Regions from separate parts of the Homo sapiens genome. Here region 2 is linked to region 1. Evidence: fine-mapped expression QTL. Tissue or cell type: subcutaneous fat. Region 1 holds a variant in brackets; the other region holds the start of a gene. All regions are shown on one strand. Distances are from middle to middle.

Evidence for each region. PIP is the estimated chance that this variant, and not a neighbour inherited with it, causes the effect.
Region 2: ALPK1 starts here. The variant in region 1 is fine-mapped to the expression of ALPK1 in subcutaneous fat (GTEx, PIP above 0.99). The same link has a PIP of 0.9 or more in sun-exposed skin.

What each region holds. Positions count from the first base shown.
Region 1 is chr4:112,417,957-112,426,064 of GRCh38, forward strand. ALPK1 (alpha kinase 1) reads left to right here. Exons shown (of 16, transcript NM_025144.4): 6 at 5,988-6,047; 7 at 7,709-7,795. Among named protein-coding and RNA genes, the nearest start is that of NEUROG2-AS1, 93 kb to the right of the region's middle. The variant C/T (reference allele first, on the strand shown) is at 5,091.
Region 2 is chr4:112,293,074-112,301,181 of GRCh38, forward strand. ALPK1 (alpha kinase 1) reads left to right here and starts at 4,296. Exons shown (of 16, transcript NM_025144.4): 1 at 4,296-4,396. RefSeq lists an enhancer at 4,060-4,354.

The DNA.
Region 1 (8,108 bases):
CAGTAATTTGAACAGGAAAGTTCAATACAAAGAATTACTATTTCAGGGGATTAGAGTAATGAGGGCTTGGCTAGTGAAAAGTAAAGAGAACTCTAAAGAAGAACTCTAAAGCGTGCAGGATAGCATTTTTAAGGTACAGCCACTATTCCCTGGACTCAGATAGAACACCTAAAAAAGAGCTCCTGGCCCTCATACCTACGCACACCACGGCTGAGATCAAGACCTTTTTGGAGAAGGCACAGACATGGCTCGCCGCGTGGCAGAGAAGTCACCAAGGTTCCATGCTGGCCAAACTCGCTGGAAACCCACCTTCTGAATGTTGGGGGAAGCCATCCACGGGGAGGCGCTGTGTCTTAGAACTCACCACAAAGCTGCCTTTACAGAGTGCCAGGGGAAACTGGTCACCAGAGGAGCCTAACTGACAGCACTCCACTGTAAAGTCAGCTGAGAGGACTGACTGCCGGGTTCGGCTGACCCTCTGCACAATGAGGAGACAGATGCTACAGAAGTCACCTATGTTGCAGGAGTCAGGCACAGGGAAAGCTATGAAAGCCTGTGTTGTAGGAGTCAGGCATTTAGGAAGTGGTACCCGCAGTGGCCTGGCCAGAGGAGCACACCAAGTCAGGATGAGAAGCACCCTTCCCATGCAGCGTCCTTCCACACCCCACGATGACAAGGCTTACCATCTTGCCAGCTGACAAAGGAGAAATGTTTACCAGATCCATCCCCATGATCACAAAGCAGGTATTGAAGGGTGGATTGGAACTGAAAGATGATAAGTTGGAGCTGAAAAAGTTACTCCCTGCATAGGAGGGAACTTTCTTAAACTGATAAAAGGAAGTAACTGAAAGCCTCCAGCAAAACCAATGATGAAAAATTATAAGAATTCCTTTTTAAGTCATGTCAAGAAAAAAAGTACCTCATTACTGCTTCTATTTGATACTTCCCTGGAAGTCCTCTCAAGGCAATAAGAAAATGAAAGGAAATAAAAGGTATAAAGGCTAGAAATGAATAAACAAAAACAGTATGATTTGTAGACAATATGGCTGAACACATAGAATACTCCAAGAAATCCACAGATTGTTAGAATTAAGAAATTCAGCAAGGTTGGTGAATACAAAGTCAATATTTTTTAAATGCCCATTCTTAGTTAGCAACAAAACCTAATTAGAAATATATCTTTTAAGAATAGAGATTGCTTTGATAAAATTTATTCGTGTAGGTATTTCATTTGATATCTGTCATTTTAAATATATTGGTATGAATAAATTTAATTCGACTGTAAGCCATGATTTCGATACTAATTTTCTTTTATTCTCTGTTTCTCTGTTTTTCTTTTTTTGGACAAATATATGTGGAAAGCCTGCTATGTGCCAACAATTGCATTAGGCCTTTAGGATAGTTATAAAGATGATCAAGATATGGTTCATTATCAAGTGGTTCAAGTTGGGGGAGAAGATAGAACTATAAAAAAATTAAAAATAGCACAGCAATGAGGTTTAAAACAGAGAGGAAATTAGAAGGGAGGGAGGGAAGAAAAGAGGAAGAAAGGCAGAAGGGAAAGAAGGAGGAAAGGAAGGATGAAAGGAAAGAGGTAGAGAGAAAGGGAGGGAGGACAGTAACTTTAAAAATTGACAAGGGAAGGAGACAAGATGAGAAACTCTAAAAACTGCAGATATTATTTCATGCTATATGTTCCATCCTCTGATGAGAATGTGAGGAAAGAAAATTGTATCCTGCATGGCTGAAAATGGTCCCCTACAAAAATATCATGTTGGACAACTAATCTGAGATAGTGGTATCTCTGGAAAGCAGTTTAGCACTGGTGAGTTTGGACTTTCATGGCAGGCTGCCTTGGTTCATATCTTTTGGTAATGATACTTATCCTCTGTAAGGCCCATTTCTTTATTTGTGAAATGAAGACAATAGAGTGCTTAGATATAATTTAGAACAATGTCCGTCACATAGTAAACACGTAATAAACGGTAGCTCTTATTGTTATTATTATTACTATTATTACCTTGAAGACAGGGGCTCTGTCTTGTTCATCATTCCATCTCCAGCTCTTAGCACAGTCCCTGGCACAATTCAAACATGTATTTGGATGAATGACAAATAGCTACTGAATATTTGCCCTGTTCCAAGCATTGTTAGAGGTACATGGGACAGGGCAGTGAACAAAACAGGCAAAACCTCCTGCTGTCTCAGAGTTCACACTCTAATGGGGAGACCCAGGCAATGAGGAAATAATTAAAATATACAATGTGTCTTATGGCAATAAATGACAAAGAAAAATAAAGCAGAGGTGAGAAACAGTGGCAGTGTTTTGGTGATCATTTGCTTTGCAACAAGCCACTCCCCAAAGTTAGTGGCCTAAAACAATTTAATCACAGTTCATGTTCTGGCTACAACAATACACATCCCTCTCATGTGCAAAATACACTCATTCCTCCCTCAGAGCCTCGTACCATTAAGGGTTCAGGTTCAAAGCTTAAGATCTTATCCTCTGAAGTAGGTTTAGGGACAAACAAGTCTTCTCAGGTACTTCTTCTGGGGACACAGAGACTTGTGAACTAAAAGACAAGTTACCTACCTTCCAACACAACTGGCATGCAATGGGGATATAGGAAAAGATAATTTCAATAGGCGCTTCTGTGCAAAAGCGGGGGAAATGAGAGTCACTCAGCAGTCACGGTTCATATTAATCTAAAATCTAGCCAGGCATATATCCCAAGTCTTCCTGATGTGAGGACAAGAATTATTTCTTGATTAGGGCTCACTTTTTCTCTTTGAGAATGGTTCGCCTCAGCTTTTGGATTTGTCCTCTGAATCATCCTTCCTTGTCTATAAAATGCATGTATATACTCATACATACATAGAGAGAAAGAGAGAGAGAGAGAGAGAGAGACTCTGTCACGCAGGCTGGAGTGCAATGGTGTGATCTCAGCTCACTGCAACCTACAACTCCTGGGTTCAAGCAATTCTCCTGTCTCAGCCTCCCGAGTAGCTGAGACTACAGGTGCACGCCACCATGCCTGGCTACTTTTTGTATTTTTAGTAGAGACGGGGTTTCACCATATTGGTCAGGCTGGTCTCGAACTCCTGACCTCAGGTGATCCACCCACCTCAGTCTCCCAAATGCTGGGATTACAGGCATGAGCCACCGTGCCCGGCCCATAAAATATTTTTTATGAAAACATCTCAGCGTACTCCATGCCTATAGAAAGTTTGACTCCCAGATGTCTCTTTTCATTTTGAACTATCTCTGCCCTTCTTAAATCAAGCTGATATAATTCCTTTAAATACTTTCTAGCTTTTTAACATACTAAATTAGAAAAAAAATGCCTACATTTATCTTTGAATGCTACTTTGGGCTACAAACCAAAGGGATACAGGACAGCACCCTTAAGATTCTTAGAAGCTCTTTCGCTTGGTCAGAGGGTCTGAGGTCTTAACAAAGTGTTTTACAGCCACGCCCTTGGTTTGATCTTGACCCTAAGGTCACATTTTACTGCCAGTGCCCTGAATTTGACCTTTGCCCCAGGTTTTAATATTTTAAATTTATCTTCAGAATGTCTTGCTGTCTGGAAAAACTATTCTGGGCCGTCTTTATTTTCCCTAAATCTTGCTTAAAAATGGAATACAGTAGTCCCCCCTTATTCATGGGGGATACGTTCCAAGACCCCAGTAGATGCCCAAGCCTGATTGCCATTAATCAAGACACATTTCTGTTTATGTCTTCTACCCACCGATTTAATGCCTTTTCCATCTTAACTAAGCATCTATCACGCACGGTAGCCATACTTTCACAGTTGGAGATGTGACAGCAAAACTAGCACAAATCTCTTTTTCCTTCTTCACCATTTTTGGATAGAGGATGCATCCTTACCATAGACCTTAGCAACTTTGGCATATGAATTTTTTCCTTCTTTATTAAGTTGAGAATTTTCACCTTCTCACTTAAAGGAAGCACTTTACAGCTTCTCTTTGGCACATCCAAATTGCCAGCATCACTACTCCTGTCCTTTGCGGCCATTGTTAAGTAAAATACGGGTGACTTGAACACAAGCACTGCATTACCTGACAGACAGTTGATCTGATCATGGAGAGGTCTGCTAAGTGACTAATGGGTGATCATCGTAGATAGCATGGATCCGCTGGACAAAGGAATGGTTCATGTCCCAGGCAGGATGAGATTTCATCACGCTACTCAGAACGGCACGCAATTTAAAACTTATGAATTGTTTATTCCTGGAATTTTCCATTTAATATTTTTGGACTGTGGTTGACTGCTGGTAACTGAAACTGCAGAAAGGGAAACTGGGGACAGAGGGGACTACTGTAGTTTCTTCTTTAGGTTATTGCTTTCTTCCTGTACTTTATCTTGGGTAACTAAAAGATACACATTTTGGCACTTTCAATATCCTTCCTGGGTATCTCCCTAGCTAGACACCGAGTCCACTGGTTACATTTTGCTACATTCCACATTACTCCTGGAGACCATGTTGCCAAACTTTACAACACCGTATAATGTCTGTTCCCTTTCTCAAACTTCCAGGAACAATTTCTTCACTGCCTTTTGTCTCTGCAACACCCTTCAAGTCTCCAAAGTTTTTGTTATAGTAGTACTCCACTTTTAAGTGCATGATTTTTCCATTGCTATGTTAAAAGCCACTCCATGACATAGTGGCTTAAAACAGTAATAATTCATTCAGTCTCATAATTTGTAGTTTGGGTGATTATTATAAGTACTGTCAGCTGGAAGCTGGGATAGCTAGAAGGTCTGGAATGGTTTCATCCACACAGTAGGCATTTGGTACTGGCTGCCAGCTAAGAGCCAAGCAGAGGCCTTGGGGGAGGGCCTCAGCTGTCCTCTGCATGGGCCTCTCCATGTGGCGGCCTCAGCTTCCTCAGAGCATTGGGCTAAGTTCCAAGAAGGGAAGGCAGAATTTAAAGATCCCTTAACGCCCAGACTTCTGCCACATTCCATTTGTCAAAACAGGTCACAGGGCCAGTTGTGTTCAAGGTGAAGGGAAATAAACTCTAGATTCCACTTTTTGATGGAAAAATGGCCAGGTCATCATTGCAAA[C/T]GAGCGTGAAGAATGGAATATACTGGTGTGGTCTTTTTTGGAAATACAACCTACCACAGCCAGAGTGTATGTCTACGTATGTAATTTAAAATAAGATGGTCAGGGGAGGCCTTCAGAGACAGTGACATTTGAGCAAAGACCTGAAGAAGAAGAGAGGAAGCCTTGCAGATATTTGGGATGAAAGCGTTACACACTGAAATAATTGTAAATACAAAAACTCTGATGTGGTAATGAGCCTGGTCTACCCAAGGGATGATAAGGAGGCCACTGTGACTGAAGTAGAGGGCCAAGAAGGAAGGAATAAGTAGTTAGAGGTGAGGTCAAAGAAGTCATGAAAGCCAGATCATGTAGGGCTTAGAGGAACCTAGAGAAAGGAATGTTTGGTTAAAAGGATAAATAATTGTGTTTCCAACAGGTGTCCATAGAATAGGCCCTTCCTATGTGGTAGTAACAAAAATAAGTAAAAACTTGAGAAAGAATCTCCTCACTCCCCACCCCCAAATTCCTGCCAGATAATTCCATAACTAGTTCCTGTCCACGGGCAACTCTATTCCACTTCCTGAAGTATAGTTTTCACAGGGAGGCGGCACAGCCTGTTAGAAAAGTTTGCCTCTACTCCTCAAACCCTGCTCTATGTGAATGAATTATCACATACATATGAATCTAATTTTCATTTCAGATACTGTCCAACTTCCCACCTTACCAACTTAGGAAAACTTCATCTTTCTTTTCAGTTTTATAGATGATGTCATTGTTGATTTTAAATTATAAAATGGAATGCTTCCAAAGGAGGTTACAGTTCCTGCTGCAATATATCAGTCTTAGAACATGAACAACTTGTAATTGTTAAGTGCATGTTCAAAGCTAATTGTGTGGCATTTGGTTGCTGCTTTTCAGGAAAACTTTTAAAAGCAGAGTATATTCTGAGCAGTCTAATAAGCAACAATGGAGCAACGGGTGAGTACTTTCATATCTTCACAATGACTTTTACCTCAGCCCCGAACAGAGCACTCATTTAATAACAACTTAGTGACTTAATAGTTACTATACCTTAGATGTTTCCAGAGCTATCTGGGGCTGGCTCTGCCACTGATGAATGAAGAAGCTTTGATCAAGCAGCTTACATCTCTGTGTCTCTGTTTTCTCTAAGTTAAAAAAAAAAACAACAAAGACAAGGAACCTACTATTGGCCTGCTTCCTTACAGAGTATGCTATCTAATGAACAATCACTGTCAAGGCAGATAACTCAGTGGGCCTTAGAAAGGTTCAACAGCAGCTTTTAAACAAAATTGTGATTGGAAATAAAAGCCTCTAAGTTCAGAAGAGTCTGCTTCGGCTTTATCAATTTAAATGGTTCAGAAAATGGATTTGATTTTTGGTACATAAGAACTTTAATAAAAACTTGTTTCAAAATGGATTTTCTTTCAATATTTAATTATCCATGAAAGGAGGCAAGACCTAATAGTTAGGTAACAAATAACTTAAGGCTTCAGATATCTTGTCTGAATTTCTGGGCATTTAAGTTAGCAAGTTTACCAATAAGTTGAGCACAGTTTCCATTGGACTTTTAAACTCAGCATGCTTGGATGTGAGGTCTCAAACTGCCTGAAACTTGTGGACATTTCTAGTGGGGAGACAGTTTGGAATCCAAATATTAACCACACACCCCTCACTTGTGGCCACCATCACTAAACTACAGTATACACTCTTGTCATCATGTGTGTGTGCACACACACACGCACGCACACAAGGATTCAAAGCTAGGAAGAAAATAAATATTATCTGATGTGACAGAGAATGGTGAGGGGGTAGTAAAGAGTCTGCCTCTATTTTTGATGTTTGACCGACCACTGACAGTTTTCAGGCCACAGCCTTTTTTACTTTTGCCTCACACTGGACAGTCCGATTAAAACAAACAAACAAACAACAAAAAGCCCTTTCATCCACACACCCAAACCCAGCTTACAGGAACCTTTACCCGGCCCCACACCCCAATCACAGTGAAAAGCAAAGCCGCTCACCACTCCCTGCCTGAATCAAAGGAGCAGCTTAGGTGCTAGCCTTACTTACCCTAGAAAGTCTCATTATGTGAGCAATAAATCTTCTCATACCCTCTTGGTACATGTGTGCAGTCATCAGTTTTGACATCCAAACAAATTTTCCTCAGATGGGATCCACCCCACGCTCCGCAAAGCAACCATAAGACAGTGGGGGTAACAGTGTAGAAATACTACTCTGTGGAGGCCTTTGAGGAAAAGCACTGAGGCTGAGACCTGAAGGAGAAGGATCTGGTTTCTTAAGAAGCCAGAGGAAAGAGAATCCCAAGCAGGGCTAGTGGTAAGTGCAGCTGCCATGAAGCAAGAGGCCAGCCCTATAACAAGGAGGCAAAATAAAGTAGAGTGGACAGAGAGTAAGTAGGGGAACTGGAGACCAGACAGGAGTCAGTTCCTGCAGAGCCTTAGACTACAGCAAGAAGTTTGGACCTGATTCTAAATGTAGAGACGAGATTGTTTCTCAAAATGATGTCACATGTGCTCATGAAGACTTCTGTGAAAATAGTTTTAATTTGCAAGGCTATATCTCTGATAATTCAAGGGAATTTTCATCTTTTCTTTTAGGTACCTGGCTGTACAGAAATGAAAGTGACAAGGTCCTGGTGCAGTCGGTCTGTATACAGATCAGAGGGCAGATTCTGCAAAAGCTGGGTACAATCATGTAAAACTTGCATTTCTCAAGGCTCATTTACAAAGCCTGGCTGCATGGTTTCACTGTGGAATTTTCTTCTTTTATCAGGCTAAAATTGTTAATTTCCACTTGCCTTAGTTTCCTCATCGAAAAGAGAATGGCATTTAAGATCCTAGGAGTGTCACAAATATTAATAAAATGTGTTTTTTTCTAGTGAGTTTTGTTAGAGAGGTTCACGGTTGTATATTGTAATGTTAACTGTAGGGTTCCCAGTGTTATTTCTAGCATCTGACTCAGTTCAGCAGGACTCCATGTGATATGGTGACACCTTAT
Region 2 (8,108 bases), 120 kb before region 1:
ATCCATCCTTGACCTACTTGCCAAGCCAAAGGACACTTTTCTGTTCTCGTCCTACTTCACTTCTCTGCATCATTTGTTCTTGTTGACCAATTTCACTTCATTGACACTGTCACTTCCATCTACTTGGCTTTTAAGCAGGCTTTCCTGAGTGTGTGACCTGTGCAATCCATAGGGCCCTGCACTCAGAGTCCCATGCTTATATCGGCTATCATCAACCTGAAATGCTTAATATTTTTGAACAAGAGGCCCTGCAAAGTCTCTTGCCAGTCCTGTTTTTAGGATATACTTTGTTTTGGTTTTTTTACTACTGTTCTAAGCGTTCTTTACCCATCTCCTCTATGGATCTCTCTTTTTCTGCGTGAATGCCAGTATTACCAACTTCCACCTCTGTGGCCTTCTTTCTATCCTGTACATTCCCCTTTGGTAATATCTAACTACAATTATAGTTTTTTGACTGCCTCTAAGTCATTTACCCATATTTCTGTGTCTCTCACCCAGGCCTGTGATTCTATTTCCTAAATATTTCTTTCCCTTCCTTTTTATTCCATTGCTACTGCCATTAATTAAGGCTAGTCATCACTTCTCTCTACAATACTGCAGTACTCTTCTAACTCATTTTCCTAATTCCAGTCTTGCCTCCTAATCCACCCACCACCAGGATCCCTCCCTTGCATGAACCTTGCTCCATACTCCAACCTTCCCACAACAGTAAGTATTCTTTCTAAAACAGTTTTATGATTTTACATTCTTTGAAATTTTCTGTTTTCTGTTGTTTTTTTTTTTCTTGAGATGGAGTCTTGCTCTGTTGCCCAGGCTGGAGTGCAGTGGCGCAATCTTGCCTCACTGCAACCTCCACCTCCCGGGTTCAAGAAATTCTCTGCCTCAGCCTCCCAAGTAGCTGTGACTACAGGCATCCGCCACCACGCCCAGCTAATTTTTGTATTTTTAGTAGAGACAAGGTTTCACCATCTTGGCCAGGCTGGTCTTGAACTCCTGACCTCGTGATCCGCCCGCCTCGGCCTCTCAGAGTGCTGGGATTACAGGCGTGAGCCACCACGCCTGGCCCAAATTTTCTATGTTGTCAATATAAATATCCAAACTCCTTAAAATGAAACACAAAGACCTCCTATTATGAGCCAACTCTTGCCAATTTTTTCCAACTAATTTCTGGCCACATCACTACTAATCCATCAGTCACTGTGATTGCCTTAAGTGCATTGCTTGTGTGCACAGTCTGAATCTGTAGCACCAATGTAGCACTTGACACAAAAGATTCCCTAAACATGTTATTGAGATGAACGAATGATGTCAGCTTGTATCAGCATTTTATATTTTATATTCAAGATGATAAATCCTAGAAAATCAAAATGAGTATGATGCTGCAGCCAGTTTTCCTGCGTGTCATAATGTATTCCTTATATAGGTGTACATCTCAATCACTTAAAATAGTTGAAATTTGTGTAATGAAACTTCCATCTTTGAAATCTTACTAAAACTCACCACTGGATTATAAATGAGCCATTTTGTCTTTGTGTTTTACATGACTCTAAGGATCTTACCAGGAATCCCTGTTGAAGACAATCTGACTGTTGTCCAAACTGTAAGAAAGATAATATCTCCTATGAGATCCCTCCTCTTCTATCAGTGCCATTGCCTTTCTCTCCATACTCAGGTGTACAGTGCCCTTTTTTAGGCTCTGAAATGTACAGCCCTTCATCCTAAACACTGTATTTCCAACATTTTTGCTCCCCTACCCCCAAATAGAATTTTGCAAAGACAATAATTCCTTCACATAAAGTCGATATTCATCTTTCATTATAACTTTAGATACAAAGGGTCTAAATCTGACGTTGAATAAACATAACTCATACATTACTCTTTTAAATGTATCCAACACAAATTTTATATCCTAGTGATTTGATGTTCCCCATCATCCATTTAAAAACGCATGTACAGGCTGGGCGCAGTGGCTCACTCCCATAGTCCCAACACTTTGGGAGGCTGAGATGGGTAGATCACTTGAGCCCAGGAGTTCGAGACCAGTCTGGACAACATGGAGAAACACTGTCTTTACAAAAAACAAACAAACAAAAAAACAAAAACAAAAATTAGCCAGGTGTGATGGTGTACACCTGTGGTCCCAGCTACCTGGGAGGCTGAAGCAGGAGGATCACTTGAGACCAGGAGGTCAAGGCTGCAGTGAGCTGTGATTGTGCCACTGCATTCCAGCCCAGGTGACAGCCCTATCTCAAAAAAGTTTAAAATTTAAAAAATTTAAAAATAAAGACACATGTACAAATCTTTTTTAACAATTGGAAATTTTATATCATTCCTGTATTTCCGTAACCTTCTGTTTCATTTCACTTCATCCATAGAAGTTTATCCTAGTATAAAACAGTTTATATACTTGAAAGTTTTTGTCATATTTCTTTACAGTAAAAATATGTAGGCCGGGTGCAGTGGCTCAAGCCTGTAATCCCAGCACTTTGGGAAGCGAAGGCAGGCAGATCACCAGAGGTCAGGAGTTCGAGACCAGCCTGGCCGATATGGTGAAACCCTGTCTCTACTAAAATACAAAAATTAGCTGGGCGTGGTGGCGGGTGCCTGTAGTCCCAGTTACTTGGGAAGCTGAGGCAGGAGAATCGCTTGAACCCAGGAGGCAGAGGTTGCAGTGAACAGAGATCATGCCACTGCACTCCAGCCTGGGCAACATGTCTCTCAAAAAAAGTATATATTGAAATTAAACCTTTCTGGCTGGGTGTGGTGGCTCACACCTGTAATCCCAGTGCTTTGGGAGGCCGAGGCAGACAGACCTGAGGTCAGGAGTTCGAGACCAGCCTGGCCAACATGGTGAAGCCCCACCTCTACTAAAAATACAAAAAATTAGCTGGGCGTGCTGGCAGGCACCTGTAATCCCAGCTACTCGGAAGGCTGAGGCAGGAGAATCGTTTGAACCCAGGAGGCAGAGGCTGCAGCGAGCCGAGATTGTGCCACTGCACCCCAGCCTGGGCAACAAGAGCGAAACTCCATCTCAAAAAAAAAAAAAAAAATAGAAAAGAAAAAAGAAATTAAACATTTCTGTTTTCTGTGACCATAGACTCTAAGTATTAAACTTTCTTAAAGATTGAATTGTACAAGTATTGATTCATAATTGATGAAGAAGACAAAAATAAAATGGTACGTTTTGATGAATATTAAGTGATAAAATTTATTCAAGTGTCACTTCTCCATAAGATTTCTGGAGTTTTAAAAAATTAATTCACAGCTGAATGTTACTTATAGTTGGAATAAAACAACATTCCACAAAAATATACACATGGAAGAGGAGAGGAACTGTGTTTACATAAATAAATAGAGATAGAATTTTGTTATAGCAATGCCATTTGGTTATTTAAACTTCTAAGGTCATATATTAAACATTACATAGCGATCTATCACACAAAAAAAATGTGTTTTAAGTGATCGAGCAACTGACTATTCAACTATTTCCTCCTATTTTGTTGTAAACAATTGACTTGCCAAAGCATTTATGACCCAGCTTTTGGAGTCCTTCACTCTCTCAGTTTCTAGGAAGTATACCAAAGGCTTTACCAAAATGTATCAAATGACTATTAATAAAACCTATTATTCCTTCACTCTAGAGGAAACTTCTTTAACCCAGCAGGCTCAAAAAGGATTGAGAAAATTAAAATATTGTTTATGTCAATAACTTTTCCAATAAAATATATTTTGACATTTAGAAATCTTAGGTACTTTTGATTTTTTTGTCAAAATTTCGAGTTGCAGATTTCAGTTGTTCCATGGAAGGACAATGTCCACTGTGTAACTCAATAAGACACTTTTCACTGTCAAACTAGTCAGCCTAATCAGATATTCTATCCAAAAAGTCCTAACTTTATTTTCCAGTTCAGCAATATATGTGTCTCTGTGATAACAAGCTCACTTCTAAGACAGAGCACAGAATGAAGCCTTAATGTGCATCTGTCTTTTGCTAACAGATTTCAACAATGTCATATTCATTGTTTCTTACTGACATTCTCTCTTCTTGGCTCTAAGAGGACTCTCCATTCTTAGTCTAAATAATAAGTTTTTCTTGCACTTTCATTAGGAGAAGGAACTTTTCTGTAGTAATACAGCTCCCAGAATACCTTTCACCGAAGCAATTCCTAAAGGGGTGTGTCTTATGGTGCAAGATTGCTGAAAGTCCCGGAATTGAATTACACAACCATATTCTGAGACAGTCACAGGATTGGTTGTTTTTTTTTTTTTAATTCCTACTTCCTGAAACTGAAGCCGTTTATGAGAAACAGTGTGTTTCAGAGAGGCTGTACCAGAATTAACTCTGCTCAGAGTTAGATTTGCTGGTCTTAAAGTACTTTTCCTCTTTAAGATAAAAGTGAGTATCATCCTTTAAATGACAAAACGCAGTAGATGGCATAATATATGAGGAAGTATTTGTCTTAAGTGTTGACTCAGTTTCCATCTGCTGATCTTGTTTATATTTAAATAACTTTAGAGCTCTAAGAACCTTTGCACTTCTATAATAGAAACTTTCCAGAAAGGGGAGGATGAGTTGGTGGGGTGAAGGGGGTGGAGTGGGGAAGGGGAGGGAGAGAAGGGAAAAGTTACCTACAATGGTAAACTGTAGTCATTATGAAGGGGAGAAGGCAAACCAGTTTTTCATAAGGTTTTAATAACAAGTTTCTTAAGTCACTGAGCTTCTGGTCTTGTCACTTAACTGAGATGTTTAATTAAAGGATTGTTAGGATTATTTGTTTAAAAAAAAACTCTATGACTTTTGCCTGGAATACATAGGTAATAATAGAAACTACCACTTTTATGACAGCATCAGTAATTTTGCTAGGAAACAGGTAGATAAGGCACGAGACTTACTCGTCTCATATGGGTGAATTGACGGGAATTCTGAGTGCGTGGAAGCATTGTTTAGAGACAAAGCATCCAGAAAAATTAAATTCCTTTGCATGTCTATTTAGAAAAATCCTTTAATTAAAAAATTCTAGTGTTTGAAATTAGTACTTTAGAGTACTTTGAAAAGCCACAAATTAAAACCTTTAAGATGGTTTGGGATTTGAGGATGGGTGAGGGTACAAACAGGCAGGATCAGGAAGGAGAGGACTTTATGCCACAATATAATAGCATCTCTGCTTGCGATATATATTTCTCTCTCTCTCTGTCTCTCTCTCTCTCCCTTTTACTTTCTTTTTACTTTGTGCCACTAATTCTCTTATAAGAAACAATATCCATTTAATTTGGGGTATAATTTATGCACTTGGGATACACTCTAGTCTCTAGAACCAATGTCAAGTCCAGTCCTTGTCTGCTGACCGAAACAATTTACTTCTCTCTTCCCACCTCCTTCCCACCCCATCAACCTCAAGCCTCAAGAGAAACAAAATACTTAAACTTATTTTAGAAATAACTTATTCCCCATATCAAAGATCTTTTAAATCTGAGATGAATCTCTCAAATTTCTTCCGCCAAGAAGACACCAAAATTGTATAGCATCTCTATCTGCATGAGTAGGAAGCCAATAATTACTTTAAACTTTTCAAAATCTATTTTAAACTGTAAAGAAAAGGCATGTGTAAATTATGATGGATATTAGGCATTATCATATATAATAATACTGTGATGAGCTTTGCTGATGTGTTAAGCTGTAACAATACCTCCCAGCAAGTGCCATGTGATCTAGGTTTGGATTTAGAGCCTGAAGTTTTCCTTAAGAATAAGTTTGTGCATTTCAAGATATTTCTGAAATTCCATGGCTCCTTCTATTCCAAACAATTTTACTGATCCCTTTCCCATGAACACAAGGCATGAATTGCTTTTATTATTCTCTAATCTATTGCAGAGAATGATGGCTTTTTGGCATAAGCTGTTCATTGTAAATGATTTTCTTTCTTGAAATTTTGAATATCTATGGATTGAAGAACTCTTAAAGGAATGAGCATTTAAACTTTTGGTGAAAATATATTCCATATTTTTGTTTTTTTTGTATTTTGTATTGTATTTGTTGCCTCTCTATATGGGGGAGTCTTTGTTTCTTGTTATTGATGGTGACAACTGTTTTTGCAGAATGTTGTAATATGCTTTATTTATAGAGAACTGTGGGATAGACAAACTTAAAAGAAAGAATATTATCTGGTGCTATCATTCTTCTATGTCTGAAGAAAAGAAGAGATGATTATAACTTAAATATCAGATACATACAAATACAACTTTTCCTAAGTATGGTATACATGCTACTGATTTTAGGCAGTACATGTCTAAACTTCAAAATTTTGAGTTATTTGCTAGCTTAATATAAATTAACATAATTTGCTTATAAAACCTAGAATTTCATGAATACTGTTGTTCAGGAAAGTGTTAAGTAAGAAGTTGAGCTAATTTACTATTGATTTTAAGGAAATGATTAAATAAATAATATTACAGGTAATCTGCAGATTTGGCAAAAATTATGAAGATGGCATGCAAATGGCTAAAGTTTCAGACATGCTACACTAATGCATTTGAGAAGTGGATATTTTCTTAGCCAGTGCAGTATCTTTGAATTTTACTGGGCCTTGGTTACAGAGCTCAGTTGACAATGCAATCTGTTCAATTTCCTAAGTATAGATGTACAAAGTATTTGACAGAGAAATATTTTATCAAACGTTTATCACACCTGTAGCCTAATAAACTATTATATTTCCTCGTAAATTATCATATAATTGAAGGGATGCAGAAGATAGCCAATACTTTTTCAAATAAGAGTGATAGAAAGGGTGAAATGTCTCAGCTTGAATACTACAGGTTCATTCTGCTTGTTTCACTGAACTTCTGAACTCAGGGGCCAGGGGGGACTTTAAACATTATCTAGATCAAGGGCTACTAATGGGTCATAGTATGTGCCAATGGCTATATGCAATAATTTCATTTCTGGGAATCCATCCTAAGGGGGAAATAATTCTAGACAAGGGAAAAATTCGCAAACATGTTCATCATAAAGTCGTAATAACAAATAATTGCAAGCATTCTCATAAAAGGGGGAGGTTAAGCAAAAGATACTGTACCCATAAAACATGATAGGATAAAAAATAGTACCAGCACAGAAAATACTAAGTGAAAAACAGACTCAGGATTGAATAACTTGTATGCATGCAAGTATTTACATAAAATGGTATAGATATAAATTCAGAAATATTCTAAAAGTGATTGTTGTCTTACAGTGATAGATTCTTTCCCTTCCTTCTATTTCTTTCTACATAACATGATATTCTTACAAAAAATTTTTAAATTATTATATAATATACTTATATCTTTTTTGAGAAAACAAATATAGTTTATTAAATAGAACTATATTGCTAATAATATATAGTAAATAAAACTATGCAGCTTTGGAAGATAAAAGTTTTTCCTTCTTTTTATTTGGCATACAAATAACCAGCTATGTGAAAGAAGAGAGGACGGAGTCTCAGTGCTAGGAACAAACAGGTGCAGCGGAGTCAGTGAACAGAGAAGGAAATACCAGTTGAAACACTTACTATTGGTTCATTTTTCTTGTGTTGATTGCTTCTCTGTCAACTGTAGCTTTTACTTCAGTCTAATAATTCTTTTGGCTTAAAGATAAAAAAAAAAAAGGCAGGGAAGGGGGAATGGAAATTTGGCCTGACCTGTGTGCAAATAACCTCTTAACTCATTTCTTGTTCTTATGGATTTCCATATTTTGGATTTAGTAATTTATATCTGCACATATTGTACTTATATTCAATTTTGTCATGTCTTTGTATATACTCCTACTGCACCTCAAAATGCACTGTGTCATTGGCTCACCAGCACTGCTTTGACCTTAACCCCAGCACATCTGGTTACTGTGGTGCATTCTCCATCAGTGCATAATATGCACCCAAAATATCTGCAGAATTGCCAGCAAAAGCCTTGTCCATTCATAATTACCTTTTTTTCTACAAAAAAAAAATTTAGAACCTCATCATGTGTCCTTTTAGTTGGCATTTCTTCACAGTAACTTCAGCTCTAATTAAAGTTTGGACACTGCTGGTCAGCCCGTCATCATTTTCCAAGATAACTATATCATTACCGAGAAATTT